Linked DNA regions of Homo sapiens: region 2 is linked to region 1. Evidence: fine-mapped expression QTL. A gene starts in region 1. The other region holds a variant in brackets. All regions are shown on one strand. Distances are from middle to middle. Region 1 holds the start of DRC8 (dynein regulatory complex subunit 8). Region 2 has its middle 29 kb from the start of KIF26B.

Region 1 (2,907 bases):
AATGTGGGAGGCTCTATAAGCATGGGGCCACAGAGGAAAAGGCTGAGAGGGAAAGCTTCAATGACTAGGTGACTTCAAAAAGGTCATCCTGGCCAGGCACAGTGGCTCACACCTGTAATCCCAGAACTTTGGGAGGGCCAGGCAGGCGGCAGATCGCTTGAGCTCAGGAGTTTGAGAGCAGCCTGGGCAACATGGGGAAACTCTGTCTCTACAAAAAATACAAAAACTAGCCAGACATGGTGGCGCGCGCCGCTCCTCCCAGCTACTTGGGAGGTTGCGGTGGGAGGGTCACTTGAGACCGGGAGGCGGAAGTTGCAGTGAGCAGAGATCACACCACTGCACTCCATCCTGGACGACAGAGCGAGACCCTGTCTCGAAAAACAAAAGACAAAAACAAAAACAAAGGTCATCCTGCAGGACAACCAGGAGGGCACAAATGTGTGTCTGTGGGAAGCTGAAATGTTGGCGGGGGAAAAAAGCAGGGAAAGGCATTCCAGAAAAAGGAAACTGTAAACAGCACACGAAAAAGCATAGTGAATGAATAGGAAGCCTGAGACCAAACTTAGGGTTTCCTACACTTATTTCAAAGCCCTTCATTATCTATATGGAAAGGGGGAGTCTTTAAACACAAATATTTAGATCATATTGACTGAGATTTAGATATAAATGAATGCTAATAATTACTTTTCGTTATTTTGGGGTGTTAAACATTTACTGTACAAGATTGTATTCGTTTTAAGTATCTTCTAACATGAGCCATTTTGTAATGATTCAGTTGTTTATATTCAATTTCAAGTAGAATGCTGATCACAGCGCCAAATGGGTATCTTCTACAGAAAAAGTTATTTTAATAAAGAAAAATATAGTCAGTTTTAGGATTTCCTGAGAGATTATAGAAACAATAAAAGCATTAAAACTGTTAAGTCATTAAATACGAGTACCTTGTATTTTGAAGGCTCTTAAAATTTAGTTTATAAATTGCTTTTACATAACATATGCACTGAAATACCACTTAAGATTAGTTTTGAAAATAGGTGTTCGTTTCAACCACATCATTAGGTATTTTATTCAAAGCTCTTTATAAAAAGAGCTTTACTATGTTCCAGTATAGTAAACTTATCCAGAAAATAAGACAAAAATTTAACTTCATGCTATAGCTGCAAAGTTTTCGGAAAGCGGGATTTAAAACTTCCATTGTAACTTTAACTAGCGGTCATGTCAAATTTCACAACTAAGAACATTTTAACGCATGTAATACTGAGCACAACATGGGCACGTTTTTGTTGCTATGAGAACCTTCTATTTTGTATTAGACATTGCAGCCTTGACGACGCAATGTTTGTGCTATTTTGCGCATGTTTTCCTGCAGCTATTCCTCTCCTCTAGCAATAGTCGAATGGCTCTGGTTTCCTCTTGCGCCCGGCCCAGTTTTTCCGTTTTAGCTTCGGTTGTCATAGGCTGTGCTGTCGCTTTCTCTGGGAAAGGACGGTGAAGACTGGACGGGAGAAACCGGGAGGGCAGGCGCGGCCGTTCTGCAGCAGCCGGGCCGCTTCCCGGCGGGAGGCGGGCTGCGAATGGGAAGCGGGAGGAGGAGGCCGGGCCGCGGGCTGGTTCTATCACCCCCTTGGGAGCCCAGCTCTTCACCTAGCTCTCCGGCGCTTTTCAAAATCTGCAGTTAACAACAAAAATCGAGCAACGCCACGTCGCACAAACAGGACAGGAGGGGGCGAGGGGTGTGTGCGCGCGCGTGCTGTCCCCAAATGGATGAGAAATAAGGGAAAGGAGGGGTTGGGGACCGTGTGATGAAGCAACATGCTAGGCCCGGGACAAGTCCGGCTCCGGCCTCGGGTCTGGAGGGACAAGGCCGGGGGCCGGGTGGCAGACGGGGCCTCTGGTCTTCCCCCAGCGCGAGGGTCGTGGCGCGAAACGGGGACAGGGCGCGCGCTCGGAGCCTCCTCCCCGCCCCGCCCCGCCCAAGGGTCTTCCTCCCCCGGGATTCAGAGCGGCCCCTCCTCCAGGCCAGGCTCGCCGCGGGGCGCTGAGCAGGCCGGGACACCGCGGCCGAGGTTATCGTTAGGCATCTCCCAGGCGACCGGCTCCGCAGCAAGATGGCGGACGAGAAGGACAGGGAAGGTAAGGTAGGGGAGCCGGGGAGCCGCTGCCCTCGCCGCCCGCCGCGACCCCGGGCTGCACGGGGAAGCGCCGGGTGGGGTGGGCCCTCGTCCATCTGGAGTTCCCACCCGCAGGGAAAGGGCGGCCTGAGGAGGGGGCCACCCGGCAGCAGCAGTCGCCCTGCCCCCGTCCCCGTAGCCCGCCCGGCCCGCCGCTCCGCCCCGCCCCGCCCCGCCTCTCTCCCCCGCCCCGCCCCGCCTCTCTCCCCTCTTCCCTCCCTCTTCTCTCTCCCCTCCTCCCGCCTTCTTCTTTCTCCTCCCGCCCTCTTCACCCTCTTCCCCTCCTCCCGCCCCGTCCTCCTTCCCCCTCCCTCGGAGGCCGGGCCTTGCATCCTGCGCGGGCTGCGCCGGAGGCGCCGGCAGGGGGTGCTGATAATGGCGTCGTTGTTCACGGTCGCGGGGAAGCCGCCGCCGCCTCCACACTCTCGCCTGGGGTCTCGGTGCCGCAGGCGCCACGCCCGTAGCTGTCCAGGCTGTGGGCCCCGGGGGGTGGCCTGGGTGAGGAGGAGTTCTGGCCGCCTGAATCTGACGGGATCCTCTGTTTGCGCCGAAACCCCGCGCTGGCGCAGCCTGATGGCGTTCGCGGCCACCATTTTGCCTCCTTAATGAGGACGCAGGAGGACGGTCTGGAGGTCACAGCCGCTGCCTCCGAGCTTCCCGGTCCTCCGAAATGCCTGCCCCGCCGCCGGCTAGCGCCGCGCAATTGGCCTAGTGTCTTGTCTTAAAAAAAAAAAAA
Region 2 (2,907 bases), 160 kb after region 1:
AAAATACAGCTTCGTCTCCCTCTCCCATGACTCCACCCTGCACACTTCGACCAATCAACCATCTCCACACTCCAGTCTCCACTCCCAAACCCTTAAAAACCCCAGCCCCAAACTCCTCAGGGAGATGGATTTGACGTTTCCTCCCATTTCCTCCTTCGGTGGCCCTACGATGAAACCTCTTTCTCTGCTACAACCCTATGCCTCGGCGTATTCACTTTCTGGTCCCATCCAGCGATGGACCCATCGTGGTTACCGTGGCTGGCCAAGCCTGCTGTGCTTCACAGACCCCACTCAGGATCACACCACTTCGTTCCACTGTTTGGAGATGCCATGTTTGCTTATCCCTTCATCAGCTGATGAGCATTTGTGCTGTTTTCACTTTTTGGCTATTACGAAAATGTTGCTACGAGCATCCATGATATTCGCCCATTTAAAAAAGTGTTTTTCACCATTACTGCTGTGGGAAATTTCTCCCTGGCTCTGTCCTTTCTTTGTAGCCCAGCCTTCCCCCAGGTTTTGGCTCTCCCTCTCTGGCTCAATGTCAGCTCCTTGTCTCACCTCCTAGAGCAATTCCACTCTCCCACCTCCTGCTGCGGCATTTCCAAAGCCTCTGCTTAGCAAGGGACCACCCATTCTGCACCTCTCCCCTTAGGGCTGCAAGCACCTGCACAAACTTGGTGGTTATCCTATGCCTCAACTCAATCAAATTCTCTCAGTTTTCCATCAGCAATCTTTTTAAGCCAAAGGGAAGGCAAGGACTTGATCTTCACATCACATGAATCATGACACCTGCCTTAGAAGGCAGAAGCAACTGTAGTTGGAATAGCAATTGTTTTTCAACATATGGGATGATATCAAGGCTCTTTCCTCCCCATATGTCCTGCCCTGTTAGTGGCTGGGGCTGAGGGTTTTCCCAGGAAGCCAGATTGTCCTCACAAGTTCCTCAGGACCCTAGGGCTTCCACAGATAGTAGGACTGTTATCAGAAAGAAGTCTCGATCCAGACGCCGAGAGAGGGTTCTTGGATATCGCCCAAGAAAGAATTCAGGGGGAGTCCATAGAGTGAAGTGAAAGCAAGTTTGTTAAGAAAACAAAGGAGTAAAGAATGGCTACTCCATAGGCAGAGCAGCTCCGAGGGCTGCTGGTTGCCCATTTTTTTTTTTTTTTCTTTGAGATGGAGTCTGGCTCTGTCGCCCAGGCTGGAGTGCGGTGGCACAATCTCGGCTCACTGCAAGCTCCGCCTCCCGGGTTCACGCCATTCTCCTGCCTCAGCCTCCCGAGTAGCTGGGACTACAGGCGCCCGCCACCATGCCCGGCTAATTTTTTGTATTTTTAGTAGAGATGAGGTTTCACATGTTAGCCAGGATGGTCTCGATCTCCTGACCTCGTGATCCACCCGCCTCGGCCTCCCAAAGTGCTGGGATGACAGGCGTGACTCGTGATCCACCCGCCTCGGCCTCCCAAAGTGCTGGGATTACAGGCGTGAGTCACCACGCCGGGCCGGTTGCCCATTTTTATGATTATTTCTTGATTATATGCTAAACAAGGGCTGGATTATTCATGAGGGAAAGGGGTGGGCAATTCCTGGAACGGAGGGTTCCTCCCCCTTTTAGACCGTGTAGGATAACTTCTTGACATTGCCCTGGCATTTGTAAACTGTCATGGCGCAGGTGGGAGTGTCTCTTAGCATGCTAATGC[A/T]TTATAATTAGCATATAATGAGCAGTGAGGTCGACCAGAGGCCACTCTCATCACCATTTTGGGTTTGGTGGGTTTTGGCCACTTCTCTACTGCAACCTGTTTTATCAGTAAGGTCTTTATGACCTGTATCTTGTGGTGACCTCCTGTCTCATCCTGTGACTTAGAATGCCTAACAGGCTGGGGACGCAGCCCAGCAGATCTCAGCCTCATTTTACTCAGCCCCTCATCACTCTGATTCAAATGCCTCTGACATGACCACGCAGATTTGAGAAACAGGCCCTCAGCCAACCAGACTCTGGCTCTACGACACACTTAATACTGTGAAAAGAAGATTACGGGTCATAGTCACAAATACCAGGGGTGCAAAACTTCAGATTAGAAGACACTTGTCAGACTCAGAGGCTCATCCAACTCCACGGAGATCATTATCACCACAAGTTCTTCAGACAGGTGTGGAGGTTTTCTAAGGGATATTTTTATTTTCTGGATTGCAATTTTGTTTAGGAAGAGATGAAAGTGAGGATCAACTACTTTGAGGATTGTACAACTTTGTAAATTGCACAAATATGACGGCATATTTATATCTGCCTGCATTTGTGAAAACAAACTTGTCAAGGAGCTTATTTCTGGAAAGGGTCAATGATTCTAGAAAAAAAAAAAAGATAAATATGAGACCCTTCAGTAAAAAGAAACTTACTCTAGGGAAGTTTTTTGTTTTTTTAAAGAAGCAGTATTCACTCGTGTTTTTAAAAAGGAACATGGATTTCAACAATAATATAATGAGTAAAGCATCTGTTTCATTTATGAAATTAGACCTATTAAAGAACAGAATCATTGAGGGTTAAGGTAGGATGAGAGTGACAGGGAAAGAAAATGGAAGGAAGGCTAGGCACGGTGGCTCACGCCTGTAAGCACAGCACTTTGGGAGGCCGAGGCGGGCAGATCACCTGAGGTCCAGAGTTCGAGACCAGCCTGGCCAACATGTTGAAACCCCATCTCTACTAAAAATACAATATTTAGCTGGGCATGGTGGCAGGTGCCAGTAATCCCAGCTACTCAGAAGGCTGAGGCAGGAGAATCGCTTGAACCCAGGAGGCAGAAGTTGCAGTGAGCCGAGATCACTCCACTGCACTCCAGCCTGGGCAACAAGAGCATACCTCCATCTAGGAAAAAAAAAAAAAAAGAAAAGAAAAAGAAAATGGAGAGGAAA

Evidence for each region.
Region 2: its variant is fine-mapped to the expression of DRC8 in whole blood (TOPMed, PIP above 0.99).

Annotation. Positions count from the first base shown.
Region 1 is chr1:244,968,311-244,971,217 of GRCh38, forward strand. It overlaps DRC8 (dynein regulatory complex subunit 8), which reads left to right and starts at 1,372. Exons shown (of 8, transcript NM_032328.4): 1 at 1,372-1,733; 2 at 2,019-2,133. The coding sequence starts at 2,109. LOC124900416 reads right to left here and starts at 2,260. Exons shown (of 4, transcript XM_054328428.1): 1 at 2,016-2,260; 2 at 1,945-2,014; 3 at 1-1,942. The coding sequence starts at 2,227. The coding sequence ends at 1,676. It overlaps EFCAB2-AS1 (EFCAB2 antisense RNA 1), which reads right to left and starts at 2,559. Exons shown (of 2, transcript NR_111907.1): 1 at 2,502-2,559; 2 at 1-1,669. RefSeq lists enhancers at 1-226, 2,665-2,907 and silencers at 1,435-1,574, 1,845-2,024, 2,035-2,394, 2,405-2,494.
Region 2 is chr1:245,124,776-245,127,682 of GRCh38, forward strand. It overlaps a transcript of DRC8 not described here. Among named protein-coding and RNA genes, the nearest start is that of KIF26B, 29 kb to the right of the region's middle. The variant A/T (reference allele first, on the strand shown) is at 1,698.